Regions from separate parts of the Homo sapiens genome. Here region 2 is linked to region 1. The links come from fine-mapping of genetic effects on gene expression. A gene starts in region 1. The other region holds a variant in brackets. All regions are shown on one strand. Distances are from middle to middle. Region 1 holds the start of GNG10 (G protein subunit gamma 10). Region 2 overlaps MUSK (muscle associated receptor tyrosine kinase).

Evidence for each region. PIP is the estimated chance that this variant, and not a neighbour inherited with it, causes the effect. A credible set is the group of variants that fine-mapping cannot tell apart.
Region 2: its variant is the best candidate, but not a certain one, in a credible set for the expression of GNG10 in spleen (GTEx, PIP 0.67).

Annotation. Positions count from the first base shown.
Region 1 is chr9:111,653,837-111,670,566 of GRCh38, reverse strand. GNG10 (G protein subunit gamma 10) reads right to left here and starts at 8,962. Exons shown (of 3, transcript NM_001017998.4): 1 at 8,852-8,962; 2 at 3,621-3,752; 3 at 341-1,298. The coding sequence starts at 8,932. The coding sequence ends at 3,627. DNAJC25-GNG10 (DNAJC25-GNG10 readthrough) reads right to left here. Exons shown (of 3, transcript NM_004125.4): 2 at 3,621-3,752; 3 at 341-1,295. The coding sequence ends at 3,627. DNAJC25 (DnaJ heat shock protein family (Hsp40) member C25) reads right to left here. Exons shown (of 4, transcript NM_001015882.3): 4 at 16,222-16,730. RefSeq lists enhancers at 7,902-7,951, 8,152-8,251, 9,322-9,381 and silencers at 8,542-8,661, 8,692-9,141.
Region 2 is chr9:110,798,591-110,815,320 of GRCh38, reverse strand. MUSK (muscle associated receptor tyrosine kinase) reads right to left here. Exons shown (of 15, transcript NM_005592.4): 15 at 8,763-15,015. The coding sequence ends at 14,333. Among named protein-coding and RNA genes, the nearest start is that of MUSK, 140 kb to the right of the region's middle. RefSeq lists an enhancer at 6,549-6,598. The variant C/T (reference allele first, on the strand shown) is at 7,494.

The DNA.
Region 1 (16,730 bases):
TCCAATCACTAGATCTAGAAGTTTAGTAGCTAAAAGTTAAGGGAGTTCCCATCTAATAACTTCTATTTTCTCTATTGTAACACTACTTACACTCACAGATATTTTTGTTTATTTATGAGTTTATATATAGCTATTTCAGAGAACAAATGTTGCCATTAATAGAGATATTTTCTTCATGTTATACAGTTATCTATTTTTCAGGACATTTGCAAAATTCTACAAAGACTTAAAAACAACAATTTCACTCTCTCATTCCAGCACTCAATCTCACAGGCAAACAGAAATCCTTGAGTCCTTAATACAAAATCAGACACAAAATATTGCTGTCATAGAAAAATGATTAATTAAGCAGAAATTTTATTTCCAAGCTCTTCAAAGACCGTTGCAAACACGAATAATGTATCCTTCTAAAAAAGTGTCCCAAATTAAATCAAAGGCACATCGTCGAAGTAAAACACTTGTGAAGTTAAGAATTCTTTTAGGTTGTAATATTTTCATGTTAGTTTTTAATCATTTACAATGTTCTGTGGGTCACATTTTAAACATTTTTAAATATATGAAATTCTGTATTTCTTTAAGTACAGCCACAACTACAAAGCAGAGAAACGTAAGAATACAAAAATCAAATCTGCTTCATTTATATACACGATGGGGCAGCCTAATGCACATCATAACATTAACTTTTCCAAAGAAGTTTGCTAAGAATCTGCTCCCATAATTAGTGTTAAAAATAAAGCAATCTTCCCATTTAGAAAAATCAAGACATCAGTTGATTAATAAAGCCTATTCTTCCTCCCAGCAATTTGTACTTTCTGGTCTTCATTTAGGAATTATAAATTCATGACAAAAGAACAAATTTTTTATGGAATAAATAACTTCCAGGAACAACAGTTTATAAGTATTCAGTTGTTTAAATAAACAAAACTATTTTCCTTCCTAAAATGTAAACATCCAGTAAATGAAACATACATGATATTCCAGGTATAGAAATCTTAGTAACTCACTTATGAAAGAGGTGCATTTTGGTATGTTTGGTGGTAAGGTTTTTGTTTATCTTATGTATAAAAGTACTTGCACAAAAAAAACAAGCAGTTATTACTATTTAAAATTCTATTCCTTCACCCAGTTTTCTCACTCAAGTAGAAACTCATGAATATCTGTGATTTTGGCTATAGGACCAGGCCACAGGAAAGGGCTGAAATATCTCTAAAAGTTAGGGAAAAGTGTTTTCTTGAGACTTGAAGGCAGTCATTCATCACTTTGTGCTTGAAGGCATTCCTCAGCAAACTTCTCTCCTACTGGAAAAAGAGTTTGTTTGGTTTTCACTTTAGTAAGATTTCTTTATAAAATTAACTAGTCATCATTTAATAGGGTACTTTAGTATTCACGAAATAGAAAGCAACAGGTGAGCTAGGCGCGGTGGCTCACGCCTGTAATCCCAACACTTTGGGAGGCCGAGGTGGGTGGATCACCTGATATTGGGAGTTCAAGACCAGCCTGACCAACATGGAGAAACCCTGCCTCTACTAAAAATACAAAAAAATTAGCCGGGCATGGTGGCGGGCACCTGTAATCCCAGCTACTAGTGAGGCTGAGGCAGGAGAATCGCTTGAACCCGGGAGGCAGAGGTTGTGGTGAGCTGAGATCGCACCATTGCACTGCAGCCTGGAAACAAGAGCAAAACTCCGTCTCAAACAAAAAAAAAATGAAAGTAACAGGTGAATACAAAAGACATCTAAACCACACCACTGAATGAGCAGCACCCATGAAAGTGCTTTGTAAGGCCGGGCGCAGTGGCTCACGACTGTAATCCCAGCACTTCGGGAGGCCGAGGCAGGCAGGTCACCTCAGGTCAGGAGTTTGAGAACAGCCTGAGCAATACGGTGAAACCTCATCTCTCCTAAACATACAAAAATTAGCCAGGCATGGTGCTGCACACCTGCAGTCCCACCTACTCGGGAGACTGAGGCAGGAGAATTACTTGAACCTGGGAGGTGGAGGTTGCAGTGAGCCAAGATTGTGCCACTGCACTCCAGCATGGGTGACAGAGTGAGACTCCATCTCAATTTAATAAAGAGAAGGAAGGAAAGAAGGAGGGAAGGGAAGGGAAGAAGAGGGGAGGGGAGGGGAGGGGAGGGAAGAAGGAAGCTTTGTAAAAAGAAAAATGCTATGCCAACATAAGACTATTATCTTAACACCATAAATATGAACATTTTCCATTAAAAAGTACAATAAGATTTGATAGATTGCTTCCTTCTTTTAAATGTGAACAATTTCCTTTTGCTACTTGTGAAGAAGGACCTAAGATAATTACTCACTGTATAAACACCCCTTAGAACACATCATTTGAAATATGTTGGTCCCAAAAGACTCTAATAATTCATGCCCTTGTCCTCTTAAAAAAACATTGTGTCACGCCTGTAATCCCAGCACTTTGGGAGGCCAAGGCAGGCAGATCATGAGGTCAGGAGTTTGAGACCAGCCAATTCAAGACCAGCCTAGCCAACATGGTGAAACCCCATTTCTACTAAAATACAAAAAAATTAGGTGGGCATGGTGGCATGCGCCTGTAATCCCAGCTACTCGGGTGGCTGAGGCAGGAGAATTGCTTGAACCCAGGAGACAGAGGATGCAGTGAGCCAAGATCGCGCCACCGCACTCCAGCCTGGGTGACAGAGCAAGATGTCTCGGCGATGAGGGGGGAAACACATTGTGAAAATGACCCCAATACAAAGCATTCGAACCCAAGAAGTTTCTAATATGCCACCAGAGAGGTGTTTTCATTTATCAATTTTTAAAGCTCTTTTAACCCCACTCACACTTTTTCCCAATAGCTATATTTCTTCCTCCATTAAAACAGAGATATATTCTGAAAACCATTGGGAAAGAAATCACAGCGGGTGGTAGGCACACATCTCCCACTCTGGGGAGTCCTTATTCCCAAGAGTAGCAAGTCAGTTGATAGCACTAAGTAGCAAATCCCAACCCTTGGATGCTATAAGGACAGAGAGGGTGGGCTTAAGGTCAAGAAATTACTGGCCAGGTGTGGTGGCTCACACCTGTAATCCCAGCACTTTAGGAGGCCGAGGCGGGTGGATCACCTGAGGTCAGGAGTTCGAGACCAGCCTGACCAATATGGTGAAACCCCATCTCTATTAAAAATACAAACATTAGCCGGGCGTGGTGGCAGGCACCTGTAGTCCCAGCTACTCGGGAGGCTGAGACAAGAGAATTGCTTGAACCTGGGAGATGGAGGTTGCAGTGAGCCAAGATCATGCCACTGTACTCCAGCCTGGGTGACAGAGCGAGACTGTCTCAAAAAAAAGAAAGAAAGAAAGGAAGAAATTACTACCAGCCAACTCAAAGAGCTCAAGTACAGAAGGATGTTGGCATCTCATGACTTAGTGCCAGAGAGACTTCAGACTGTCCTGATTAGATGTATTCTACAGGCAAGGTAAATATACACTAGAATCACACTTCAGGGAAAGTTGTGCATTTTGCTGGCTCTTGTTTTAATTTCCCCAAGAATAGGAGACATTCAAAACTCAGTTGCTCAAGTCCTTTGGGAAGCCCTGTGATAATGCTATGGGCCCAAGACATCATGGTGTATCATTACTCACGAGTCTTCAGAGTAAAGCACAGGATCTAGGCTCCCGGAAGGGGTTACTTCCAGCTGGAACACCCACCAGCAGGGCATCCTTGCAGGCATTCTGCATACAGTACTGTTGAAGCTCTGCAGCTGCCTGAGAGACCTGAAACAAAGGGACAGCAACATGGCACCCTGCTCACAGCCAAGCCACCCGGCAGTCAAGGATATTCTGAAAACGATCATCCAACTTGGTAAATATCAACTTTTTGTGACCTCCAAAAGTCTCTTTCTGCTGAAAGTTCTAATACTTGAACTACAAAGAGAAAAGGTTACAATTTCCATGAACGTCAATTTAGATATTTTTTGGTTTAGTTGCTTATTCAACGAAGACAAGAAAAAGCTGTATCTTTGATCCATTTAGAAATCTAGTTTTGAGACTGAACGGGTAAAGAAATAGCTCATTCTAGCATTCCCTTTACAAATTTTTACTTATATAAAACATGCATCAATATATCCAAGTTTGCCAAATGAGCAAATTGTCTTAATGTTTACAAGTCTGAAGCCTTATTCAGTCTGCTCCAAACAAGTGATAAAGTTCTTCCGCCTTGCTTTTGAGGCGGTATAGCTTATTATTTGGGAGTATAGCCTCTGGAACCAGACTGCGTGGACTCAAATTCAGCTCTGCCACTACCTATATAACCTTGGGCAAGTTACTCAACGTCTCAGTAGCTGCTTCCTCATCTGAGAAATAATTAGAAATAGTAACTCACCTCTCTGGGTTGCTGTAACAATTAAGTGAGTTCACACATATAAAGCTATTAGAATAGCGCTAACATATAGCAATACATTTGTGGTAGACTGCAAACGTGATCACAATAGTTTGCAGCTCCTTCCACGAAGAGGTAGAGTCTATTGACGCACCCCTTGAATCTGGGCTGACTGTGGCTGGGCGCAGTGGCTCACACCTGTAATCCCAGCACTTTGGGAGCCCAAGCGGGGGCAGATCACGAGGTCAGGAGTTCGAGACCAGCCTGACCAACATGGTGAAACCCTGTCTCTACTAAAAAAAAAAAAAAAAAAAAAATTAACCGGGTGTGGTGGCGTGCACCTGTAATCCCAGCTACTCAGGAGGTTGAGGCAGGAGAATCGCTTGAACCCAGGAGGCGGAGGTTTCAGTGAGCCGAGATCGCACCATTGCACTCCAAGCTGGGTGACAAGAGCAAAACTCCGTCTCAAAAAAACAAAAAAAGAAAAGAATCTGGGCTGACTTTGACCAGTAGAATGTGGTAGAAATAAAGGGCAAGTTCCAAGCTAGTCCTCAAGAGTCTCTGCACCTATCTCTCTTGGTGCAGGTGGAACTGTAAGACAACCATCTGAAGGAGCCCAAGATAGCCTCCTGGAGGTCTTGTAGAGGAGAACTGGTAAGCTACAACCAGCACCTGCCTATCAACCTGCAGACCTGTGAGTGAGGCCATTCTCAATCACCCAGACACCAGCCAACACCAGTTAACACTCTATCTGATTGCAGATGCATGGGAGAGCCCAGAAGATCAGCAGAACTGTACACCTGAACCTAGCTCAAATTGTCCATCTAAGAACTGTGAGTATAAATCTTTTAAGCCACTAAATTTTGGGGTGGTTTGTCAGGCAGCAAAAACTAACTGATACAATATCATTATCCCTTTTCTTATCTTCCATTTGATGCATATTTCTACTTGGAGGTTTTCCTCATTGTACTTTTTTTTTTTGCATTAAAAGGCATTTTGAATACAATTCACCCATATTGTACAAAAATGGTTCCAATTGCTGTTCAGGTATTACTACTAGTTTGTGTTAATTTTCCAAGCCTCCAAATAACTGGAAAATTAACTGTTTATGTTACAATTGCTACCAAGTTTCTGGACAGCTCCAGGAATTTTGGTTGCATTAATGTAATGACAGTTTACTCCATATTATATGAATATAAAACCATAATATAATATTACCAGGCTAATGCTAAAGTTTGCTTTTGCTCTCAATAGAAGCTCTGACATTTTCATGTGAATTATAATTGGAATTAATGGTTATATATACCAGTTATTAATTCAAAAGAAATCGAGAATCAATTATGCTCAGGCTTACTATCTTTGCATTGGGGTGGCAGGTAAACTCCACACATGGTAGGTGGAAGGACACTGTCTCCAGGACTCCTGGAGAAATGAGACTAACTGAACTCTAGGCTCAAGAACATGGTCAAAAAGTTAAGGTAAGGGGATACGCAGAGAAAATAAGAGAAGAGTAAACGTGATCAGCATCTCTCTAACACTAGCAAGGGAGAGAGGCTGTGGGCTGGGAGACTATAAGCCCAAATACTTGCAAGCTGTCCCCTGCCATTGGTGGTGGGATAACCTCCACCCAGGTTACCTGACTTTCCTTGGTTTGAGCCCATGTTTACCCAGCAACTTCTGTGAGGCTCCTCTAAAGGAGGAGTTCTTGGAAGGATACCAAGCATTCCTATAGCTGGGAAGGGATGTCCTCTATTATATGCTAGAAAATTGGTGTCCTGGTTTATTTTTCAGATAGCAAGTCTGTCAAAGAGAAGACACCTCTGGCTATGCTAAGCACATCCAACAATGAATGAGGATGTGAGGTAGACCAGACCCTGGAATGGTTGTGACTCTCTAAGGTATTGTCTGAGGGAAGCCCTGCCAAGTACCCCAGATCATACTTCCATGAGCGCACCTCTTAAATAGGCTTATTATCCTATTTGTAAATAAGCTTACTGCGAGCTCAGGCAATTCACCTGAATTATATGGCTCTCAGTTTCATCATCATTTTTAAAAGGTAGATAAGCACATCTTTCCGGCCAGGTGCCATGGCTCATGCCTGTAATCCCAGCACTTTGGGAGCTTGAGGCGGGAGGATCACCTGAGGTCAGGAGATCGATACCAGCCTGGCCAATATGGTGAAACTCCATCTCTACTAAAAATACAAAAAAAAAAAAAAAGCCAATTAGTGGACGTGGTGGCAGGTGCCCGTAATCCCAGCTACTCGGGAGGCTGAGGCAGGAGAATCGCTTGAACCTGGGAGGCAGAGGTTGCAGTGAGCTGAGATCATGCCATTGCACTCCAACCTGGGCAACAAGAATGAAACTCCATCTCAAAAAAAAAAAAAAAAGAATATCTTTCCTCTTTCTTAGCTACTTGGCGGGTAGACAGGCATCTGACTGGCTCACAGTTTTCCTTTCTACCTCATGTCCCCACATTGTCTTTGTGAATTTCCAACAACCCTCATTTCAGTTCCCTGACTTCTTCCCCTCAAACAGCCTTCTCCTCAATGCCAACAGATACAGTTACAACACCTGTAACTGCTCCACTTCTGAAATTTTACACTCCAGTATCCTACTCTCTGATCACAATCTCTCCTTCCCATCCAGGGTGCTGCCTCCTTTATTCTTCCTTTATTCTGCTCTGACCTCACCGAGATCACCAGGCATCACCTCCTCCCCTTCTGTCTCACCTATCACCAGGAGGCTGGCTGCATTCCTTCTCTATCCATCTAGGCTCAGCCTCTTTCTGGCCAGACCTTCACACGCCTTGCCCTCCGGCCCCACCTCCACCTTTCTGGCATACCTCCCCTGCTAACTTACTCCTCTTTCAACTACCGTTCACCTTCAGCACTCACATTCCAGGATGGTAAAGATTGCTGCAGGAAAAAAAAAAAATCACAAATATGACCAGCAGTCTCCCTTGTCACAGCAGCTGGGTCTTCAGTCACAGCGCATCTGCGTGCCTGCTCAGGGGCCACTCCCTTAGTCCCCTTTCCTCTGCCTTAGAAGAAAACCTGGCCTCCTATTTCACAAAGAAAAGTGTCACCATACAAGTTTAGCCCATATCTAGAAACTTATCTTTACACACACCCTTACCTTCTTTCTTCCTGTCTCAGAAGCTGTGCCACCAATCCCCCACCCCCCCGTAGCCCTGTCTCCTCTACCAGCAATTGGCTTCCATTTGTTTCTTCCCTGGAACCTAAAAATATAATTTGTTACTTCCTCTCAACCCTAAAACATGGCTTTTCATTTCCTAAGTTAAAAAAACACGTTATTTCCTCTTTAAAACTAGGTTTCTTTAAAAAGAAAAAACGTCTGCCTACCCTATGACAGTCCAGATTCTGCTTTTACTAACACATAAGCCACCAGACCTCTGCATTCCACAGCCCTCTCTCCCTTTACCCTGTTTATTATCTTCACTCCACTTAGTACATGAAGCGATGCTATGTATCCGTTAAGTTGCTGTTTACCTTCCCCTCCAGAACCACCCTATTCCCTGTAGCAGTGCCAGGCACACAGCAAAGGAGAAACTGAGGCACAGGGACTATCCTGGTTGTGTTCCTTCTTACAGATCTTCTGCAAATAATGCTGCACTCGTAGCTAAACACAGCTCTACAACAGACGCCTTTTAGCCAACTGACTAAACGCTGGACATGTTGACTGAGCCCCCAGTTTTTGGAAATCCCTACTTCCTTGCTCGGAAACCTTGCTGTCTCTTATTTCCTCTTCTCTAGGCCTTGCTCGGAAACCTTGCTGTCTCTTATTTCCTCTTCTCTCGGCCACCGGCCATCGGTGTGGCTGGTCCCCGGGTCCCAGGCTCTGAGCTCTGCTCTTCATAGAAGAGGCTTTTTCGCCCCAATGCACTTGAATGACCTCTTTCAGCCCTGGGCGCTGAGCTTCAGGCCATGAGGACAAATACCTCCCGGATGACTCCCCGGAGTCCCCAGGTCCGCAGCCGAACTCATCATTTCCCCAAACCTGTTCCCCCTCCTCTCTACCTCGGCGGGTGGCAGCGCCGTCCACCCTGTCACGACGACAGAAACCCGAGCATCCTGGCTCTCCTCCCTCTCGCTCTCATCCTACCAATCCATCACCAATTCGCCGCCCTGCGGTGGCCTCCCCAGCCCTGGGTCCACCCTCCCGGCCCGCGCGTCGCCGGCATCCCTTGCGCCCTCCGAGGAACTGACCACGGCCGCCTTCTGGAGTGGGCGCACCCCCAGGGACCGGGACCGACCACGACCGCGGGGCCCCCCAGGCGCGGCTTCCTCCCGTCAGGCCCGGGCCCCCGGCTTGCCCCGCGCCCTCCCTCACCGCGGACCCCACCGCCCCCGCGCCCCGCCGAGGCCTCGCCGCCGCCACCGAGTCCCCCGCTGGCGCCCGGTCCGGGCCGCCGGCCTCCTCTTCTCACGCCCCGCGGGCGGAAGGACCGGAGCGTGGGTACCCGGGGCCCGCACCTTGATCCTCTCCACGCCAGCCTCCAACTTGAGCTGCTCTACCAAGCGCTGCAGGGCGCTCGCGCTAGCCCCGGAGGACATGGCGGCGGCGCTGGGCTCCTAGGGGCTGCTGGGCCCGGCCGGGCGGGGAGGAGCCGCCAGCCCCGAGCGCGGGTGCCGCCCCGGGGCGGGGAAGCAGCTGCGCCCGCCCCGCCGCCCCAGCCCACCCGGCGCGGAGCCGCTTGCCAGAGACAGCGGGGACCCCAGCGAGCTGGCAGTGCTCTCCGCTCCTCAGCGCCTGAAACCTGGGTGGCACCTGCAGCTGGGCCTGGAACCGAGGCGGGGACCCGCAGAGCGCGGCGTCCTCCAGCGAAGCTGGCGCCCCTAGGATGAGCAGGAATCGCGAGGGCGTGGGACGCGAGGATGGAGTGGGCGGCAGCAAACACGCACCCCTGAGAAATGAGAACTGGAGCCAAGGTGTGACATGAGTTGGAGAGATAAGGGGCCTTGCCAGACAGTATCACCGGGGAACCAAGGAGAGTTCATAGGATTTTCATGAGGCAGCAACAGGTTTCTAAATGACCCTGTTACTGTTTCACGGAGATCCTACCAGTTGATTTGGTGGAGTATGGTAAATTGGATAAAATCCCAGACCCTGACATCTTTGTGAAACATACAGAATAAAATTAAATTCAGCGTTTCTCACTCTCATCTCACCATTTAACTGTCATCATTGTTTCTATTCTGCTGCTTTTTTTTTTTTTTTTTTTTTTTTTGAGACAGGGTCTTGCTCTGTCACCCGGGGTGGAGTGCAGTGGCGTGATCACAGCTCCTTGTAGCCTCCACCTCGTGGGCTCAGGTGATCCTCCTGCCTCAGCCTCCTGAGTAGCTGGGACTACAGACACACACCACCACGCCCGGCTAATTTTTGTATTTTTAGTAGAGACGGGGTTTCACGATGTTGGCCAGGCTGGTGTTGAACTCCTGGGCTCAGGTGATCCTCCCACCTCAGCCTCCCAAAGTGCTGGCATTATAGGCCTACTGCATTTTTTAATAAGTGTTTTACAAAACTGGGATCGTTACTATATTTAAAATTTTTGTGTTGCTTTTTTCCATGTATCATTAATACGTCATTATTCTTGTACACCATTGTATTTGTCAGAACTCACTTAAACTGAATATTGCAAAAGGTAATATATTGGCTTGTGTAACTGAAAAGTCCAGGGACTTTAAACTAGTGAATTCAATTACCCAAATAATAATTTTGGGGCTCTCATCCTCCTTGTTTTGATTCTGCTTTTCCTGAGATTAGCCTCATTTTCCTTGGTGGTAGATGGACTTCTCTAGTGGTATGAAGGAAGGCACCACACTTTCACTGTCCCCATCTAGCAAACCCAGGAAAAATAGTACCTCTTTTCTTTCTAATCGTTCCAGCAAAAATCCCCATAATGAACCTCACTGGCTGGTATTAAGTCATGGGCCCACCCCTGGCCCAATTACTCTTTGAAGGCAAGGATGTGTGGCATTGACGTGCTCAGATTAGCTGTGCCTGGGCCAAAGGGAGACTTGCACATTTGAAAGCCCTCTCTAGTGGCCAATTTCCTCACCACAAAGAAATTAATATATATCTTAGTAAAGAGATGAAAGTACATGTTGGGAACATTCAACAATCAATTCTGAGACTGATGAATAGGACAAAATAGAATGATTTCATATTTAAAAGATATGGCAAAGAACTCAGTGCAAAGATATACATACTGGATTAGGAAAGGCTCATCATAGATCGTGAGAGCTGGACTTTGGAGATACGTGTCTTGCAGATGGCTCAGAAGGAAGAACAGTCCAGTATGGAGGACAGCTGGAGGCGATGCACACATGTAGAGTGAATAAATTTAAAAATAGAGGAAGCTCTAGTGACTAATAGCAGATACAAAGTTGCTAGGGCCAGAAGTCATAGAAAACCTCACATACACACAAAAGTTTATGGTAAACAGTGGGATAGCCACAGGGTAAGGCATTTTGGGAATATTAATCTGAGATGAATGTGCAAAATGAACTGAAGTTGAGAAGATAAATGGCTGATGGTGGGGGAGTAGCTGGAATGAGGCCCTGGGTAGGACTGTTAGAGTAGGAATGAGGGGGAACAAATTTAGAAGACAAAATCAGTGGTACTTCATGGTGGTTATGAAATGCAAAGAAAAGAGGACAAAGGGTTCTGTAGCAGAGAGTGGGCCAGAACTAATGCCAAAACAGAAATTAGGAAACAAGACTTGGCTTGAGATGAGTAAAAAATAATGTGGGGTTTGGTTTAGGAGTAACGAAGTGACTTCCATGGCATTGCTACATGCCTTTAGGCTGCTGAAAATGTTTAGTAGCCAAGATGTTAATGTGAAGATGTCTCCACAGCAATGGCAGCTGAAATAATGAGATTACCTCAAAATCATTAGAAATGAAGGCTTTGGAGTTGCCCTCAATGAAGGGACACACGTCAGCCATGTCATACTGTATCAGCCACGAGGTAGCAGGAAAAGTCTAGGGGTGTGCTGTGTCTGCCTCCTTCATGCCCTACACACCCACTGCCCCGCCCACCTCAGTGTTACTTTGCACCGTTCAAGAGGAATGGTCTGTGATCCATGGATAAGCAGGCCGGGCGCCACTTGTACTTGAGGAAGGCTGACCATCTGTGTGATGCTCCACACTTTCCCCACAAGACTTCTCATCCATTATTTTTGCATCATGGAACTTCAAAGTTGAAGGGAACCATCAGATAGTGCGGCGCATCTACAATTTCAGAGATGAGGAAACAGATCCACTAAGGAAAGTGAAGTGACTTGCCCAGTATCACAGAAAGTGGGAGCAGGGAAAAGAATTTCATTTTAGCTTTCAAGAGAATTCAGGCCAGACGCGGTGGCTCACACCTGTAATCCCAGCACTTTGGGAGGCCAAGGCGGGCAGATCACTTGAGGTCAGGAGTTCAAGACAAGTCTGGCCAACATGGTGAAACCCCGTCTCTTCGGGGTTTCTACCACGCCTGGCTAATTTAAAATACAAAAATTAGCCGGGCGTGCTGGCATATGCCTGTAGTCCCAGATTCCTGGGAGGCTGAGGCACAAGTATCGCTTGAACCCGGGAGGTGGGGGTTGCAGTGAGACTGCGCCACTGCACTCCTGCCTGGGCGACAGAACAAGACTCCGTCTCAAACAAAGAACTCAAGGTTTACCTAGAGGACCAGAGGCCTTTCCCACATGTGCTGTGATTTCCAGAGCTCTGGAAGGTGAGGGATGGAGACAGAGTACCCTTCTTTCCTTCTCACTACAGCTAAAATGCATGGGTAACCAGTAGAATATCTTTCAAATTTTGTCACACATTTTTTTCCCTGGTTAAGCACAAACTTATCTCATTTCCAAGAAACTTTCTAGAAATGTCATTACCCTTGTAATGACAAATGTTTCATTTGTTTCCCTGTTAGGAGCTACAGTTCTTCACTCCTCTGACTTGTATTTTATCACCTGTCTACTAACAGTGGATTATTCTTCCAGGAAAGGGGTTTGTGAGTCAATCTTCTCCATAAAAATAATGACATAATGGGAAGATATTTCTGCCAATGTTATATCAAAATGACAATAATATATACCATCTATAGTTTCCAAAATGATTAAGAGTAGGAAAACACATTAATAACTATATCTAATGTGACACAGTATCATGTACTATAAAAATTATTTTACTTCTTTTTGCCTATTACATTATTTTTAGAACCCAGAAATAATGAATCAGGAGCTGAAAGAATCACCAGCAGGTTTGTAGATTCAGAATGGCTTTTCTGGAGAGATTTTCACAGGTACTTTTGAGACTTTGGGAGACGGCAGAACTTAGGGCTATTAGATGTCTTTTTGAGCAACCATTCTAAGCATATCTGTTTGCTACATTGAAAATGTCCCTTCACTAAATGTAGGCCTTAGACTAGCAACTTGCTGATCATTCTGTCATCTCTGAAAGTTTTTCTTTCTTTCCTGAGTCGTCATCTCGGCTGCTCCACCTTGCACACTGGTGGCAACAGGGCAGGCAGCTGCTTTTTAAAATACACAATTCCAACCCTAAGGAGCATCACTCCTTCACTCTAGCACCGTGCCTTGCACAAGGGATTAAAATATGTATTAAAAGAATAAACAATGGGTTTGTAATCATCACAAAACACACTCCTGTTACCATGCTTTTTTTTTTTTTAACAAATGAGACTCTTTGTTATTCCCTCTGAAGGCAAAATAACTCACATTTCCTGATCACTTAATATATGCCAGGCATTTTACCCTTGTTATCGTCTAAGAACTGTCTGAAATAGTATCTTTACATGAAAGAAAACAAGGCTCACAGGTTAAAGTAACCTGCCCAGTCAACCTTGTTCTATCCGGTTATAAAGCCAGAGTCATTCCACTATGTCGTGCTTCGTGAGGTTATAAAGGAGAGACTGTCAGATGACAGAAGTTTCTCCACCCCCGAATGAAACCAGGAAGGAGGAATCTGTGACACTGATCTGAGACCACATGATCCATTCCATACACAATTGTTGAGGATATCCTAAATCCTTTAATAATTACGAAGCTAAGGCCAGACCCTGTAGCTCATGCCTATAATCCCAGCACTTTAAAAGGAGGATCCCTTGAGCTCAGGAGTTCAAGATCAGCTTGAGCAACATAGTAAGACCCCCGACTAAAATAAAAATAAAAATAAATCAAAAAATTAGCCAGCCATAGTGGCATGAGTCCCTGTAGTCCCAGCTACTCAGGAGGCTGAGGTGGGAGGATCATGTGAGCCCAGGAGGTCAAGGCTGCAGTGAGCCATGATCAAGCCACTGCACTCGGCCTGGGCAAGAGATGCTGTCTCCAAAAAAAAAGCTGAAATATGTACAACTATCATATATCAATTAAAAAAGAATTAAGAGGCTAAAGTTTACAACTAATTATGTAGGTTTCTACTGAAATAATTTTATGAAGTAAATTTAATTTAGTTATTAGGTTCTAGATTTGGCCTTTGCCAATATTTAAATGTTAACATCACATTTTATAAATAATTATAATTCATCCATACACAACTAGTTTGTATCAATACCAACATTTATCTATTTGCTTCAAGTGTATAATTCTAAGTCAAAAGAGACCAGGTTTGATTTAATGTTTTAAAGTAGCTAGATTCCATTTATACTATCTAATAAAAGCCACATTATTTTCAGTTTGTGGCCAGCAGTCTGGTTCACACTAGCTGAGTGATACCCTAGCAATTGGCCTCCACTCAAGAAAAATATCTCCAAGGTTTGGGTATTAACAGTTTACTACTGGCCGGGTGCAGTGGCTCACGCCTGTAATCCCAACACTTGGGGAGGCCGAGGTGGGTGGATCACGAGGTCAGGAGATCCAGACCATCCTGGCCAACATGGTGAAACCCTGTCTCTACTAAAAATACAAAAAATTAGCCGGGCGTGGTGGCAGGTGCCTGTAGTCCCAGCTACTCGGGAGGCTGAGGCAGGAGAATCACTTGAACCCAGGAGGCAGAGGTTGCAGTGAGCTGAGATCCTGTCACTGCACTCCAGCCTGGTGACAGAGTGAGACTCCATCTAAAAAAAAAGTTTACTACTAGGCCAGGCGCGGTGGCTCACACCTGTAATTCCAGCACTTTGGGAGGCTGAGGCGGGAGGATCACCTGAGGTCAGGAGTTCAAGACTAGCCTGGCCAACATGGTGAAACCTGTCTCTACTAAAAATACAAAAAATTAGCCAGCCATAGTGGCAGGCACCTGTAATCCCAACTACTTGGGAGGCTGAGGCAGGGAATCACTTGAAACCGGGAGGTAGAGGTTGCAGTGAGCCAAGATCGCACCATTGTACTCCAGCCTGGGTGGCAGAGCGAGACACCATCTCAAAAAAAAAAAAACCAAAAAAACAAAAACCCCTCAAAGTAATGAATTATTATTTTCTAAACATAAATAGTACTAGTTAATTCTCTAAACTGAACCATTCTTTCATGTAACATTTTAAAAATCCTGTATCTCAATGGTCCTATTTAAGAGTAGACCTAATACATGTTATGAAACTGTAACCTATGATTTGTAGAACTTAGAATTCATAAATAAGGCAATGAAGAGTTAGTCATGGAATCTGTTATGAGAATATCTGTTATGCATATAACCTGAAGGGTAATCTTAGCAGACCTCAACTATGTAACACAATGACGAATAGATAGCATTGAACAGCTATGCTCTATAAACCCTTGAATACCAACCAAAAAGGCAATGGGAATAGCCCTAAAATGAAGTTCGAGAAAAATGTTCTAACTAGTGGAGTTGTGGGGTTCTCTACCCAGGATTTTTCTCCAGATGTTTCTAAAATGGAGAGGCTTTTGGGTTTTTGGTGAGGGATGGGCAGGGTACAGATAATAAGGACACCCAGAAGACATGACTGACATTTGTGACAACTAACGGCTCTTCCTTCACCCTAGGATTTTGAAGCATAAGGTCCATCTGTTGAGGGAAGGCAAGAAGAATCAGTTCTTCTCTCGAGCACGGCCCATTCATCTAGACTCACGCAATGACTGTGATTCCAAAAGACTGACCAAACATTACCAAGTGGGCAGGCTACTGGGGACAATTCCGGAAACATTTCTAGGAAGACTGGAAGAAATACAGTAATCTAGCACATATGCAAAAGAATATCAAAAGATGAACTGTTTTCATCAGCCAACCCTTATGAATGCTAACATGTCCAGTCCTCTTACAGTTCGTCGCTAGGTTAATAGAGGCATTCAAAAATTTTGAGAGTCGAGTACTGACATTTCTTTTTGGTCCTCATAATATATGTCACGTACTTATGTTTTTAGGTGGTAAATACCATTGTGTGTTAACTATATAATACATTCACCAGGACAGGGATTGCTGACTCTACCGGCAACCACAGCATCTTTGAAAGGCATTTTGTCTATAGCTAAGAGGTGGGCGTTTGAAGTCTAAAAAACAGTTACCTGTAATTCAGCTCTGTACCTTCTCCACACTCCTCCAACAGAATAGATGCATAAAACACTTTCATCTAAAGTTTACAAAAATATAAATAATTTTAGAGCTGCAAAAGGGCCCTAGTGATAATCTGGTCGGACTCTTCCCCAAGTTTATAATTGAGCCAACTGAAGTCCTCGCAGATTAACTACCTTGCCTCAGGTCTTTGTCTACGTTAGCAAGAGCCTTCCTGCTCTGTCTCACATTGACTGGGGCTAAGCTCTCAAAACAACTAGCTTACTTTAGCTAGAAACAGACTCTGCATATCAACTATGCTATATTAATCTTTAAAAATTATATAAAAGCAATTTTAATGTTTCATTTAAAACGTCATATCAACAAACTTGTGATATATTGTAACCATTTTATTAATATGAAGCAATGGGATAAATCCTTTAACAGGGGTACTGATTTACTACCGTGAATATGTACCAACACTTTGGTGCAGTATCATGCCTGATTCAGTCAAATAATGTGTTATTTACTTGCACTGCCACACATGTGAAAACACATTTCATTGGTTGACAGAAGAGCACACAGCCATGTACCTCGTTTCTGGCTTAAATGCATAGAAATGTTCTCATGTACAACGGATTTTTCACCACTCAAGGACTTCATAATAGATGAACAACTTTTCAATACACTATTTCTGCCTTGCTATTTTTTTTTTTAAGTGAAGAGAGAGGGGAAAAAACCAATACTGTGGTACAAAAGACCTTTTTACAAGGTCCTTTCTGGAGAAATGTTGAGAATACAGTTATAGTCCTATAATAAGACTATAATCAAGATCATCCTACAAGGACGTGAGGGTAGACTCACTCTCCTGGAGAGTTTCTGATCTTATTAAGACTATTATATT
Region 2 (16,730 bases), 860 kb after region 1:
ATTTGTGACACTCTGAGAACTCCAAAAGCCTGGGAGAAATCTTTTTTCTTTTTTGAGACAGAGTCTCACTCTGTCACCTAGACTGGAGTACAGTGGCATGATCATGGCTCGCTGCAGCCTTGACCTCCTGGGCTCAAGGTATCTCCCTGCTTCAGCCTCCAGAGTGGCTGGGACTCCAGGTGCACACCACCATGTCCAGCTAATTTTTAATTTAAAAAAATTTTTTTTGTAGTGATGGGGTCCTCCTATGTTGCCCAGGCCGGTATCAAACTCCTGGGTTCAAATGATCCTTCTGCCTTGGCATCCCAAAGTGCTGGGATTATAGGCATGAGCCACTGCACCTGGCACACATATTTTATCACTAATGTAATAAAATTACTAATTTTATTACTAAATTTTTTTAATATTTAGTAATTAATTACTAAATAAATTACTAATCTTTCTTGAAGGGAAGACTTAATTAGTGGACTAAGTGTGTATTGTTATTATTGCATAAAAAAGGTAGAATGGGCAGTTTCTGTTTTATTTATTTTGTAACTAGCTCAGGTTGAATTTGGAAAGTTAGTTCTTTCCTTTAAAATTCACCTACTTCTTCAACGAGAAGGAAAATGGAATCTTGGATCAACCAAAAAGAATTGATTTTATTACAATGATTTATGCCATATCTGTTAGCAGTTTTAAGGGAAGTCTTCAACATATAAGGCTAGTGTGTCACTATTATTTAATAAGATGACTGTGTCTATAAAAATAAGCTAGACAATAAGAAATCTTCCCAAATTGAAAGTTGGGAAGTTAAGAAACCCTTCTTGAAAGGATTGCCTTTGAATGACAGGAACTGTCTCATGTGGAGATGCCTGAGAGGTTACCCACTTCTGGCCCTTGCCCCAGGGTGGCTCATATCCAAAGGCAAAGCAGGGGTATAAGAATTCAATCTTCTTTGCCTCTGGGTAGGACAATCTTTGCGGTATAACTCATACTCCAGAGCTCTCTGTGAGTGCAAGCTGAGGTCACACTTCCGCTGATAACACACCTTTGCCCAGCTCCTTCACTAACCAAACTTCCTTCTATCACTCCCAGAGGCATTTCCTCTGAGAGCACTCCCTCCATAAACCACTTGCACAGGAATCTTTATCTCAGGCTTGGTTTTTCAAGAACCTGACCTGATATGGTTTTGCTGTGTCCCCACCCAAATCTCATCTTGAATTGTAGTTCCCATAATCCCCATGTGTTGTGGGAGAGACCTGGTGGGAGGTAATTGAATCATGGGGGCAGTTACTTCCATGCTGTTCTCCTGATAGTGAATGGGTCCTCATGAGATCTGATGGTGTGGTCTTTTCCCCTTTTGCTCAGTACTTCTTGTTGCCACCATGTGAAGAAGGACATGCTTGCTTCCCCTTCTGCCATGTTTGTAAGTTTCCTCAAGCCTCCCCAGCAGTGCTGAACTGTGAGTCAATTAAATCTCTTTCCTTTATAAATTACCCAGCCTTCGGTATGTCTTTATTAGCAGCATGAGAATGGACTAATACATGACCTAACCCTGTATCCTAAGAGTAGTCCTAGGAAGCATACCCTAAGGTTGGGATTCTGGAGTCAGATCATTTGCTGATAGCAATGAGAACTCCAGCCCTTGGAGACGTGGAATTTCAACAGCCTTTGAAATGTCGTAGCAGTGCAGTTGCTAATGAATTTATTTGTGATGAGCAGGTGGAAGGATATACACTAATTCCTGCAATGTCTCTGCTTTCATAGAACTCATTGCTATTTAAAATGATCTGTTTATATTTTTGTTTTCATATTTATTATTTGTTCGTTAGTAGAATTAAAACTCCCCCAAATCAGACTTATCTTGTTCACTAGTATTTCCCCAGCAACTGTGACAGTGCCTAGCATTTAGTAGCTAATCACTAAGTATTGGTCAAATGAATGAATAAAAAATTAATGGAGGATTTTAAGGAAGGAAACGGAGAAGAAGAACTGTTGCTAGGAGTGAGGGGTATGGACCAGGCACTGACACCAGAAAGGTAATCATCTATTTTGAGTTCACTGCCGCCCCTCCTCCCAACCCCCACTGCTTCCTGCCAGGTGATAGTATTTTAGTTAGTAGCTCTAGGGAAATAGTCTCTATTTAGCCTCTCAAGGATAGAACCAAACAGATGGTTTCTACCTCTATTGTATCACTCTTTTGTTTCCTGTGAGTCTTGTCTGTTAGTATGATGCCATGTGTTTTCCATTTTGCAGAAATTTATCCAAATCCGTAGTCCATTGAGACCCCAGGTGGTGAGGCAAACACATGCTCTCTCTCCATCTTGGACTGGAAGCCCATCTAAACATTTAAAATTCTACGATAATTATACTTAATGTAATTATTACTATGTCAAGGCTTAAGTCTGCCATTTTATTTGTTGCTTTTTATTTGCTCTGTTTTTTTTTTTTTTTTCTGTTTTCTTGTTCTTGCCTTCCTGTGGGTTACTTGAACATTTCTTAGAATTCTGTCTTGATATATCTATAGTGGGTTTTGTTTGTTTGTTTGTTTTTGAGACACAGTCTTGCTCTGTCACCCAGGCTGGAGGGCAGTGGTGTGATCTCGGCTCATTGCAACTTCTGCCTCCCGAGTTCAAGCTTTTCTCCTGCCTCAGCCTCCCAGGTATCTGGGAGGCATGTGCCACCACACCCAGCTAATTTTTGTATTTTTAATAGAGACAGGGTTTTGCCATGTTGGCCAGGTTGGTATTGAACTCCTGACCTCAGGTGATCCACCTGCCTTGGCCTCCCAAAGTGCTGAAATTACAGGTGTGAGCCACCGCACCTGACCAATAGTGTTTTGAAGTGTATCTTTTTGTGGAGTTTTGTTATGGTTGCTCTAGGGATTACATTATACATGCATTATACAGTACGTATGTAACTTATCACAGTTACTAGTGTCGACATTTTACCAGTTCAAACAAAGTGTAGAAAGGACCTCCTTTTATATCGCTTTAGCCTCCTATGTTTATAATATATTGCCTTAAATATTTCCTCTATATGCATTTAGAGCTCAGAGGCATGAAAGTCTGAGTTGTGGAAGAGGACTTTTCTGACTCACACCTGTGGGAAGTTTGAGCTCCTTATTACACCTGGTGAGGGAGAAGTCTAGGATCCACACTCGGTCTTTGCTGGCGTGGGTGGAGGTGAGGCCATTTTTTTTGTTTGTTGTGTGTGTGTGCGCGCGTGGTGTTTGGCTAGAAGAGAGCAATTATTGTCTAAAAGGTTTCTGTCTTGCTAGGTGCCCTTTTCCTGGTGTTTTGTCTAAAGATAGCAGGCTTTAGTTGGGGCTTTTTTTTTGTTTGGTTTTTTTTTTTTTGGTATATGCCCGCTGGCGTTTCTGTGTTGCTGGCTTCTTCAGCTTCAAGTTTGAGATAGCTGAGGCCCAAAGAAAACCCAGAGAGCTCACCAGAATGTCATTCCTTGACTCTGTCTTCTTCCTAGATGAACTGTCTACTTCTCTCTACTTTTCCACGTTGGTTTTCTATGTGATGTTCGGGTTTTTAGTTGTATTTAGTGGAAGGAAGAGGAAAAAGCACATCCACCCCCTCTTCTTATAAGTAGAAGTCTACTGTGTAGATTTTTATATCTTTGAATGTTGACCCAAGTGAATGTATTACTATTAAAAATAATTAAATAAAAAATAATGCAATGAAAACAGTAAAAAGCAGATAGGAGATGTAATGAATTACAAAATCAGATTAAGACATTTACCTATCTCAGAAGAAATTGATATAAAATGTATACAATGAGGCTAAAGATAATAAATATGGAGGGTAGATCTAGAACATACATTGTAACAGGATTCCCAAGAAAAACTAGACTGTTCCAGGATCCACACTCAGTCCAGGTGGAGAACAATCAGTAGAAGACAAACAGTAGAACATACTTGACAATTCACAAACTGCCCAAAAACAGCTGGTAAAAAATCTGAAAAGCAAACAATATCTGCAGGAATTTAAAAGAAAAATCAAATTTAAACAGGGAGCTAAAGTTTCTCAGTTATCAAACTGGCTAAGAATTAAATTTGATGACATGCTAAATTAGCTGAAGTATCAGAAATAAGCACTTTCAAACATTGCTATTGGTTGTGTAAATTGTTGCAAGATTTCTGGAGGGTAATTTTGTAACATATATTAAAATTCCTAAAAAGGTTTATTGCATCTGACCTAATTATGTTAGTTCTATTGCTGTATCTGCAGGAAATAGTAAAAAGATCTGTGTAATGATTTAGCTATAGTATGTCAGTTTTCTATATAATTGCAAAAAATTAGACACAATTATATTAGCAAAGTCCTTGGAAGTATTTACTGTGTATTAGGTACCTTTCTAAGCCTTTTCTACTTATTAAATCATTTAATCTTTCCAATAACCTATGAGCTTGGTGCTATTCTTATTCTCTTTTCATAAATGAGGAAAATTGAACACAAAGGGGTTAAGTAAATTGCTAGGATTTGACAGGCAGCAGACTCAGCCCTGAGTCCATATATTTCAACACTCCATCTGCTGCCTGTCTTGATAACACTTACGCAACCTCCATATACATTTGATAACATGTATGCAACATCTAATGATTTATTATGTCATCACCAAAATAATGCACACATTGATATTTAAAATATAAAAAAGTTCTAAATTTATTGTTAATGGAAAGCTGTTAGGTTAGTAAATAATACAAAACAATCTTAGAAAAAAAATCTAAGTGTAGATTTTTGAAGTGTAGAATATTTATGTCAAACAATTAATGATTTTTCCTTTAGGGCTGTGTTGTTCTGGAATCATCTTCTAGTTTCTGTTGTGAATATAATGTATTACCTGTTAATGCTAAGTTTGGCCAAGTGCCAGATAAATTCACAGTTATTGCAATAAGAAAATAGATCTTTCATAAGAATAACTAAATTTTCTCAGAGTTCTCTGAAATTGGATGAGTAGATACCTACTTTCTTCCAAAATTGTCTCAAGTATACAAAAATTAAAAACTAGTTTCATATAGCTTTGCAAAGCTTATTAGAAAGAGGTTGACAGTTATAGAAACAGAGATAAAGATGTTTTCCCTAAAATATTTGAGGTTTATTATTTAAAAATGTCTTAAAAATTATGTCTCCAAATTGCTTGAACCTGGGAGGCAGAGTTCTGGTGAGCCAAGATCACGCCACTGCGCTCCAGCCCAGGCAACAGAGCAAGACTCTGTCTCAAAAAAAAAAAAAAAAAAAAAAAGTGTCTCCTTGATTTCTCAAATAATTGAGAAATTATTTGAGAAATGAATGAGAAATAAATAAGAGTTGATCTACCATTTGATACAGCAATCCCATTTCCTTTGGTATACACTTAAAGGAAAATCAATCATTCTGCCAAAAGGCACATTGTACCCATACGTTCATTGCAGCACTATCCACAATAGCAATGATGTGGAATCAACATAGTTGCCTATCAATGGTTGATTGGATAAAGTAAATGTGATACATATACACCATGGAATACTATGCAGCCAAAAAGAACAAAATCATGTCCTTTGCAGCAAAATGGACACAGAAACAGAAAAGTAAATACTAAATGTCCTCAAGTATAAGTGGGAGTTAAACATTGAGTACACATGGACATAAAGATGGGAACAAAAGACACTGGGGAATACAAGAAGGGGGAGGTCTCTGAAGAAGGGAGGCAAGGGTTGAAAAACTATCTATTGGGTACTATGCTTACAACCCGGGTGACAGGTTTAGTTGTACTGAAAACATCAGCACTACACAACATGTCCACATAACACACTCGCCCATGTACTCCCTGAATCTAGAATGAAAGTTGAAGAAAAAAAAGGAATATAATACCCTCTGCCTCCAAAAAAAAAAAAAAAATGTGTTTCCTCAGGCATTTCCTGGTCATCTTTGCTTTGTTCTTAGAAATGAAATTTATTTGTGGTTTTTTGCTCTCTCAGTGTCACTCCTCTGTAAGTCTTTCTCTCATCTTTGATCAGTTTATTTTTTCTTACCTGTCACTTCTGAGGGTACTCTGGGAATGGGCTAAAATTAGGGCAGCTGCTTTTTTAGGTTGCCATAAACAAAGCAACTGAGTGATGTCAGGCAGAATGATGCTGAGAGTCTCCTGAGAAGGTGATCTGAGTCAGAAAGTGACTTAAACGAGTGAAGAGAAGATAAATACATAATACTAATGGACTGTCTTAAGATTCTTAAATATAATGCATCCAAATAATTTTAAAAATCAAGATAGCAGAAGAAGAGGTGACTTTAAATTATGTTTCATCCATACTTGAGTAAAGCATCAATTGAAATAAGAAGGAGCATCACACTAACCACCACGGTGTCAACATGGCTAAAAAAGAAAGTCAGAAAGCAGTGTCATGCCAACACTTCTAATTTTAATCACAGCTCTAAATGGTCAAGAACACACCCAGAAAATGATAGTGTGTATCTAAGTCTGGGTTTTTTTGTGGTTAACATCTCTCTGACGTAACCTTAGATACTACAGGTGGTTTCTCTTCTTATGGGCAAAATGCTATATACGGTGTGTACTTTCCAGAGACTGTGGTTTGAAAGAGCAATGCTGGCCAGTTGCATAATTACAGGTCTGACGATGAAGGTTGTAAGAAAAACTAACCCTGTTGAATCTCTTAGAAGTTTTTAATTAAGAGGGATTCTGTAAAGAAGACATGTAACGGCTTACAGGTAAAGGCTTACCTTGATTTTGCTTCATTCAGAGGACATGACCTCTTAGAAGGCAAGGTAAACATCTAGACACACATAAATCTTTGTTTGTAATGATAAGAAATGTACTGGCAAATATATCAGACCCCCACACCTATGGGTCTTTCCTGTTGATGTAGTTTCTGACCTTCCAATATGTAATGACTCAGTACTGAAGGCCAAGTGCGAGTGGTGAGTGGTTTCTCTGGTGATCTATACCAAAATAAGGGCTTATAAGTGTTCTATCTTGGTGGCTGTGCTACTGAAATAGATCTGAAACAAGTAAAAGAATAGTTACCTGAAATACACTTGCTATAAAGCTTTGACTCCACTCTAACCGGGATACCTCTTCACAATAAAGAACACTATGGTTAAAATGATGGAATGAGCACCATATCGAGTTCTCCTCTCCCAGATTCTCATGGAGTGACACATAGACCACGCAGAAAAGGAAACAGTCAATCGTGCTGCAAATCAGGAATGGGTAACAGATAAATGCAACCCATTTGCAGCTGGGGAATTTCTGCCAGCTGTAATGGGAATGGGCAAGGGTATTGAGAGCTATTAAAATGGATACAATCTACCCTCTTTAGAATGAGTACGTAAGTCAGCAGCACTAGGACACTGCAAGTGTGTATTTGCACTGGAGAGGCTCTGAGACTCCTCCTCGGTATCAAGGCAACACCAAGCTCCATAGCAGTTTTCAGCTTTGCTCCTAGATCAAGCAGAAAGCCTAGTCCTGAGGAGGAGAATCTAAAGCTATCATCTATAACA[C/T]ACAGTTAGAAATGTGAGTGTAAAGTTGGGGAGAGAGGTTTGAACTAAAAATAAAAAAATCTCAGCATACAGATGGCATTTATAGCCTTGCAACCAGAAGAGATCACTAGGGATGAATACAGATAAAAGGGAGATGTCATCCAAGGATTGAGGTGTGGGCTGTTCCAACATTAAGAAACAGGAAAAGAAGGAAAAAAGAAATCTGGAGGCAAACAAGACGAAGGAGTGAACCGATAACTCCTAAACTATTTCAACTATTCCAGAGAGGACTCTTGATGAACATGGTAGTAAGAGGCTTTTCTTTTCCCCTCAAGATTTCCCCAATATGACAGTAAATGTATATGAATAAGAATCAATCTATGTACATGCTGAAACCAATCCAAGTGCCATCACTTTGACAAATATTCAAAAAGCGGAAAGTATCTTAGTGTTCTTATCCATGGGTAAGACAAGGCACAGGAAAAACTAAATTGCAGCTTTTGCAATACACACAAGCCAAGCGTGAGGGGAGGGGAGATGTGATTTCACATGTATAAAGTCTCCATGCTCTGAGTCAGCAAATACAGAGACAGGGGTGGGCTGTGGGTTGTCAATCAGGATGGTCGACTAGAAGATTGTGTATAGAGCAGGTGGGCCAAGAGGCCTCATGTCTATCCCTGTAAACTGCTATCTGAATAGATCAATTTGCCTGAGAGGTCGTTGGTGTGGGTTTGAAGGGTCCTAGGTGTGAGGCAATACAGAAAATGGGGAGAATATCATACTCTTTTGGGTAATGGAAGCAGTGAAAGAATAGCAAGTAGCTCTCCCTGGGAGTGAAATACGTCAAAATATTGTATCTCAGAGTACAGTCTTCCATCACTTTGGAACTGTGGGGATTCTGACTCAGGCTGCCTATACTTCCCTATGAGCCACATAATCAGAGCCCAGAGGTAGCCATCCCACGGAAAAGAGGTCACACTGGGTGAATATACCAACAAAACAGCAAAGGGACCCCACTTCTACTACCAATACGAACCAGAGCAACTCTTCATTTGTAATTATGTATGGTGAATAAAAAAAATCATCAAAATAATTTTCGGAAAAAAGGGCACGAAAGAAGAGAGGCAGAAGAAAAAGGAAAAATAAATATCAGGAAGAGAAGCGAATGTAAAAGTTTTGTGATTTTTAAAAATATTTCTTCCATAAAATAGAGGAAATAAGAATTAATGTATATTAAATTTATCTTATCAAATTAAAATAATGGAATACCATTATTTGGCAATGCATAAATACATGATCACATAATTGCAGATATTTTATTTTTGTTTTTTGATGTTTAGAATCAATCTAGTCAAAGCACCTAAATCTTAATTTGTTCCAGAACAAAATGCAAATATTACAGATTCATAGAAATGAACATATAGTTGACAGCGTAGAAATAGGTGTATAGTTGACTGATTGTGAGAGTAGAGAGCAGGGAGAAGTGATGGAGGGAAATTTGGAAGCTCTAATTTTATGTAGCACAATCCAGAATCAGTAGGTAACCTTTATTTAGAAATATTTGTGAAAGTTGTGATAAACAATATAACATTAGAAGTTAACATATCTCAGGAAAAAGAAAGGGAGTTTGAGTCAGAGTGCTGCATATTTTTAAAAAATTGATCAATTCAGAAAGAGAAATGCAAACCTATTTGTTAGAATTGCACTGGTAATCACCAGAAGAACTAACACTATAAATGGGTGAAGTGGTTAGCACTTAGGCTGGGACTAGAGATGAAAAGGAAGAAGGGAACTTTTATTATTTTTTTAATTTTTACCCTCTTGTGAGTTTTTTTAAACAACATTTTTATGTATTACTTTCATAAATAACAATTATTTAAAAATAAACTAACCAAGATTATAGAGAAAAACTCCTGAGTTTTTCCTAATACAATGCTAATACAAATGCTAATGCCAATACAAAACTCTAACAGAGATGAAAATGATAAACTTTTAATTTTATGAACTTAATATTGATGCAAATATATGTAAATTAATTTGGTAGTTAAGTAGAAGATTGATATGATTCGCCCAAAAAGTTTATTCCTAGAAGACAAGGATATCGCTACATTAGGAAATAAATTCATACAATTGAACATATTAACAAATCCATTAGGGAAAAAAGCCACAATCATCTGAATGGACGGAAAAGTCAACATTCTTTTCTGATTGATAAAACCTACAATAAAAGACAAATAGAAGTCTATATTTTTAACATGATAAAAGTAGTTGAAACATATATCACAAAATTTAACTCCTTAATATATAAAGTGCTCTTACAAAGCAACAAGAAAAAGATATACCCAGTAGAAAAATAATAGTAGGAGGCAAATCACCAATCAAGTATCCTCAAAACATTAAACAATGTTCAATTTTATTAGTATTTAAAGAAGTGTAAATATAAGCTATGAAATAACTTTAAGCTATTAGCTATTATATTGGCAATGATTAAAATGCTATACTCAGTATTGGTGAGACTGAAATAAATGGGCTGTCTTATCTGACTAGGAGAGGTACATGTTAATAAAATAATTCAGGAAGGTAATTTTTTAATATATTTAAAAAGTATTAAAAGTGCATTTATCCTTTAATCTAGAAATTTCACTTCTAGGAGTTATAGCTAAAGAAATCACTTAAGATAAATGCTTACAAAATTTAGCAACAGGATGATCCAAACATTACATTTTATAATGGAAAAATAGAAATAAACCAAATGTCTAACAGTAGAATAGTTATGTCAATTACGATAAATCTGTATAATACTATTCAACCATCAAAATTAATGTTGCACATGAATACTTGTTCATGTAGAAGATGTTTAAGATATATTAAGTGATAAAAGCAAGGCTTGAAGTAATGTAGCAGTATGATCTTATTTTTGTTTAAATTATCTATCTATCTCTCTCTATGTATCATCTATCTATCTATTTACCTACCAACCTACTTACCTACCTGTCTATCTGAAAAAGCCTGGAAGAATATTATGATGTTAATGTTAATTACCTCTGGTTGGTGTTTTTTCATTTTTATTATTGTCTATTATGATTATACATATTATTGTATATTATTGCATATTATTTTTCTTTTCAAACATAATATATTACTTTTATAAGAAAATAAGTAAATGTTATTTTAAGGTAAAGTAAGTAGATGTGATCTCTTGTGTAAAGTATGAAAAAGGCTTAATAGGCTTTTTACAAGATAAATCCCATAATTCGATTAGAAAATGAACACAGCAGAAAAATGGGCTGTAGACAATTGCCAAAATAAAAACTGTTAATGACCTAGGAACAAGAAACATTCAACCTGACTAGTAATTTAAAAAATAAAATTAAAAAGAGGTTCTCTTTTTCTATAACCAAAGAGACAAAAGATTTCTAAAAAACAGAAAATTATCTATGAAAGCAAATGTTTAGGGCTATGAGATCTCTTGTACAATGTAGAAGTGGCAGTAATATTTCTGCAGAATATGAAACCACATAACAGAAGTGTTAATATTGTACATGCCATTTGGTCCAGACATTTCCTTTCTCTGAATTTTCATAAAAAGAAATGTGGACATGAACAAATAAGGATGTTAATTACAGCATTTTTTATAATGATAAAAATTGGAAAAAACCTAAATGTTCAAAAATACAAGATTGATTAGCTAAATTACAGTATATGAATAAAATAGAATATTATTCCAAAATTGGGTTTTTAGAAGAATATTTAATGACGTGGAACAGGTTCGTAATATACTGTAAAATGAAAAGAAAGTGTTCTTTTTCTGCTCTACCACGATAGCAGAGAATATGTTTTTGGGTGTCATGTGAAAAATACTCTGGTATCTTACCATGTTTGGTATTTGATCACTAAAAATGACTGCTGGTGCCTTACTGATATCTGTCCTGGCACTTGGTAACAGTGACACTGTGAGTGTCTCTCTTTTGTCTACCTTTTTGAATGTATATGATGATTCTACCATGAAAAAAAATCTTATTTAAAAAAGTAAACAATATTGGTGAATAATGCATCTATACTCCTGTGATTCAGAACATTAGATCGAGCACTTAGGGAATAAGTCAGTGATCTTAACTTGAAAATGTAATTAGAACTCATGAAAAAATAAACATGTCACCTATTAGATGTTATGATTAACTTAAATTGATAATGCTGAAATATACTTTTTTTGCTATTCATTAAAAAGACTTAGGAAGTTAATAGAATAAAATATAGATATAGAGTGTGCTTGAAACGACATGCAAATTACAAATCACTTCCACAGAGTTACTGAGGTTCAGTTATTGCTTCTATCATGTACAGAGGCTCTACAGTATAGTGGTTGAGAATTCGGCCTCTTTTGGTCAAAAAGTAGGCTCTGTTGCTGTGTGCACTCGGGCCAGTTGCACAATCTCTCTGTGACTGTTGGAGGCTGAGCTTGCAGTGAGCCAAGATCGTGCCACTGCACTCCAGCCTGGGCGACAGAGCGAGACTCCGTCTCAAAAACAAAACAAAACAAAGCAAAACTAAAATGTATATAATGATAGTACCAACATTACAGGGATGTTGTGAGGTTTAAGTTCATATATTTAAAGGCCTCAGAATACACATGGTAAGATTTCAATAAATGCTAGCTGATATTATAATTTTTATGATTACTGTTACTCTATTTTCTGTCAGCCTGACTTCTATGTCTGTCTTTTACAACAAAACTTTATCAGCGGAGAAAGCCCGAAGCTGTCTTTGAATTTTGCAGAGCATACATGAACCATCTAAAATAAGCCATGGATATCTATGCTCAAGTTCTAGACTTGCTGGTGGCCCTCTCCAACTTTTCTGCTTTGTTGGCATCTTGACTTTCTGCTTTAGACACACGCTGCAACTTTATTCTTTATTCAGTCATTTGGATTACAGTATCAATTTTGGACTTAGACTCATGATTTTTATCTGAAGCACTTCTTTAGGTCTCAGTCCTAAATGCTGACCTCGCTATTTATGAACCAGAACTGTGACTAAGGACCGCCTTACTGTCGTTGTATCCTACAGAATCTGTTCAGGTCTGAAATGAGAGGAAGGCCAGCTAATAGACAGGGTGGGCAACGGTAGAGGTTGAGTCATTGGCTCTTGGGTTGAAGGGAAGAGGATGTCAGCAGGAGGATTTTAGGAAGTAAAACTAATAGAAAACTGATGATGAAAGAGAGGGCAAAGTCTAGGAAAATTTCTACATTTTTGTCTTGGTTGCCTGGAGACACTATGAATAAGAAATGGCAGGTTTCCCACCAAAGATGTCAAGCTGTTACATGAGGCAGATTTGGGGATTTCAGGCAGAGTTTTCCAGCAGACAGCGAAAATCTACTTTCAAGAATTCACACCATTCCTCCAATGCCCTAACTACCAATTAGTCTGAATTAAGATAAGCTGGTATAGAGTAGACTGTTATTTTCTCTTCCCTGTTCGTTTTCAGGAGAATTTGGGTTCCTGCTATATCAGAAATAAACTCAGATCATGTATGGACTTAGATAAAGATGTATTGTGTGAGGATCCACTGAGAAAAAATCTGAACCCCCAGGAATCTGAGTTCCAGAGCTGCTGCTTTTTTTTTTAAATCATGAAATACAACAAAATCAGTTAATATGTCATGCACAAAGTTGTTAAGCAGAACGATATTAATTCTACAGCCAACTGAATTTGTTTCTAAAAGGAATAAAATGTCAGAATGCACAGAAATATCAGTTTTGAAATAACTCAGAGCCACAAGTGTATCTTGTGAAATCTCATATTATAAATTATGGTTTAAGAGATTTAAATAGACTCTAGTAATAATATTAATAGGTGAGAATGTTGAAATGTGTGGCTTCAAAGGCAAATGCAGGAAAAATAGTAATACTTTGCAAAAGGCATATACATATCAATCTACAATGGTATTTAAAATGTTATTATTTCTGCCAGAGTGTTTATTACATGAATGAAATAAAAGAAAAAAATAGCTTAATAACTAAAAAAGGACAGAAGTCCTGGAAAGAAGAAGAAATAAAGATTAAAGCAATGGAAAAGATACCAATACAATTTTTAAAGGAAAAGGTAAATCAGTAAGATACAAAAACTTGTTTCAAGAAAACTGGAGGAATAAAATAAGCAGACTTAATTCATGACAAATGCACAGAAAGGAAAAAAGGAGGGGCACAGGACAGAAAAGGGAACTCAGAGTTACAGGCTTGCTGATTTGCTGTTTCATTCCTTAGAAACCCTCTATCAATAAAATGTAACCACAACTCTGCAGAATACAAACAAATATAAAATTATGCATTAAATGCAAGAAAGATTTAATAAAACACTAAGACTCGTCTTTGGGGGGAGACAGAATGAGTGGCTTTTCCTTCTTTTTAGTTTTCTGTACTTCACCTAAGTGTCTTACATGACGATTAAGCTACTTTCACAATGGACAGGAATTAACTCAATTAAAAAATGAAGCTCTGAATCCCATTTCATATTAAAATTTAATACAGCAGAGCTTTACTCTGTGACCAGCTACTTTGGAAACTGAACAGGATGACATTCTTCCCTGTGCAGTGTGTATTACAAACCTTCATGAAGAAGAATAGTTGTCTCCATTATCTGACACATTTCCTAGCCTGTGTTTCCAATCACTGGCTTTCAATGGGTCCGTCTACCACATGGGTTTTGCACTGTCTTTGCTCTCCCTGGGAAGCAAACAACACACTACTCATGTTTACTCTTACTCTTTCCTATGTGGGTCTTGTTGGGCCTCTGGTGTAGGATTCCCCTGGCTCACAGAGTCTGAGAGGAAACTGCAGCATTTTATTTGAACGTCTTCAACCTTAGACACTCACAGTTCCCTCTGCCCTCTCACACATGCGTTCCAGAATTCGGTGAATACTGGTGAAACTGGGTCTGTCTGCAGGCAGCTTGCTCCAACATAGACGCATGAGATTGTACAGCTCCACGGGGCAGTTCTCAGGGCAGGAGAGGATGTTGCCATCTCGCACGTAGTAAATGACCTCCTCATGGGCCATCCCATAGTAGGGCTGCAGGCCATAGGAGAAGATCTCCCAGAGGACCACGCCATAGGCCCACACATCAGACTCTGTAGTGTAGCGGTTATAAAAAATGGACTCTGGTGGCATCCAACGGATAGGGATAGCGTCGTTTTCATTAGCTTTGTAGTAGTCTGCTGAGTAGATGTTCCTGGAGAGGCCAAAGTCGGCAATTTTCACCACCATGTTCTCGCCCACCAGGCAGTTCCTGGTGGCTAAATCTCGGTGAACAAACTTACGTTCTGAGAGGTAAGCCATGCCAGCTGCCACCTGCCTGGCAATGCAAAGCTGCTCAGCACAGGAGAGGGGTGGGGGCCCAGGGCTGGAGACCTGAGCCCTCATAGACAAGTCACTGTGACTGAGGCTGCACACGGTGTGAGGGGACATGCTGCGGAGGAACTCATTGAGGTCACCATAGGCCATGTATTCAAAGAGCAGGCACATTGGCTTCCCGACAGCACACACTCCTGGAACCAAAAGACCATCCCTGTTAGTCTCAGTTTCTACAATGAAACAATGGAAAGAGCACTCCAAAAGCAAACGACCATGTCAGAACATATGAAGCCCTGTTTTTTGTTGTTGTTGTCGTATGTTTGTTTTTTAATATTTGTATCCTTTTAATCACAACACAAAAGGAGTCTCAGCTAGGAAATGCACTCTGGGTAGTGGGGTTTCTGTCCCTTGGCTAAAGTTTTTGAGGACTTCCAGCAGAGCGCTGTTGTCCTGGGCACTTGTCATAAGTACATCGTACATGGTGCATCAAGTTCATGGTGCATATAAGTACATGGTGTATCAGTTCTCTGGAGTGGCTCTTCTCTCTGAAATCTGGAGGCCCTGGTTTTTTGTTGACAACACCATGGTTGAACCCTGACCCTATTTCTCTGCCTAAACATCTCCTCTTTGCCTTTAAGATTCAGTTTATCACTCTCCCTAGGGTGCCTCAGCTCCTGATCCTTCCAGTAACTGTTAGATTTTCCTACTGTCATCCTTTCACAGAGAACCTACCATCCTATTTTATAATCATTTGACTATTTGAGGTTTCTCCCCAACGTTTTAGCACTTTGAAAGGAGAGATTGAACCTTATTCTTCTTTAAAAATTCCCCACACCTACCACGTGTCTGGCAGAGCAGATGCCTCATAATGTTTGGTGAGTTAATTTATGAATGGATGCTTGCTCTGAGTATGTAATGTAATTGCTGTCTGTTTCTGTTTACTTCTATGAAGGATGTTAATAAGAAAGATGTATCAAGTTTGGAAACAATAACAAATACAATTCAAGTGTCTTAGATGAAGTATTTAAGTTGCTGCAGTAAAACATTTTGAAATTTAGGTTTTACAATGTTCATGCTACCAAAAAAGTTAATATAAATAAAGTCTTAGATTTAAAGCCAGAAGATCATTTTCAAATCTTAAAGTCTTGATATATTTGAGAGGGAAACTGGAGAACTTGGAATATTAGATAAGATGGGCATAATTTCACATCATCTTAAAAATAGATTATTAGATCTATTGGGTTTTTTCAGGCAAAAGTTAAAAGTATCTGTTTGAAAAAGAGGAGAAATGAGGAATACTGCTATCTTGGCTTATTTATTTTGGCATTAATTTTTAATTCCAAGGACCTCAATTAGCACATTTCTGTAAACTAAAGGGAAAAAATAAAGAAATACCAACTGGATAATACTTAGAAGTTTCTTCTGTGGGATCCTTTTTGGATAATCTTTAGTTAACAGGGACTTACCTATCTCATCAACTGGCTTTACCATTGTTATGCTGGTTGAGTTGATTTAAAAATAATTTCTTATACTGGAAAAAAATGACAAAATATTTCTCTGAGAAATAAAGTTTTGAACTAAATTGATTTAATGAAATTTTCCACTCTGATAAAGAAAATACTATACAAAAGATTTCTACTTTGTGATTATTATGAACAATTATATATACATGTGTATAGATATAATTTACAATTATATATGTATATACATTTATTTAAGACCTCAAAATGTTTTCTATATTGTAATTACTCCAACCCAACTCTTAGGTGGGACTTCAAAATATAATAATTATTGAGAGGAAGACTGTATTTTATTCATCCTTGTAACCTCAGGTCTAATACTACACATGGCTCACTATGGGTTTTCAATATATGTTGATGGGTGGATGGATGAATTAATGCATAGGTGG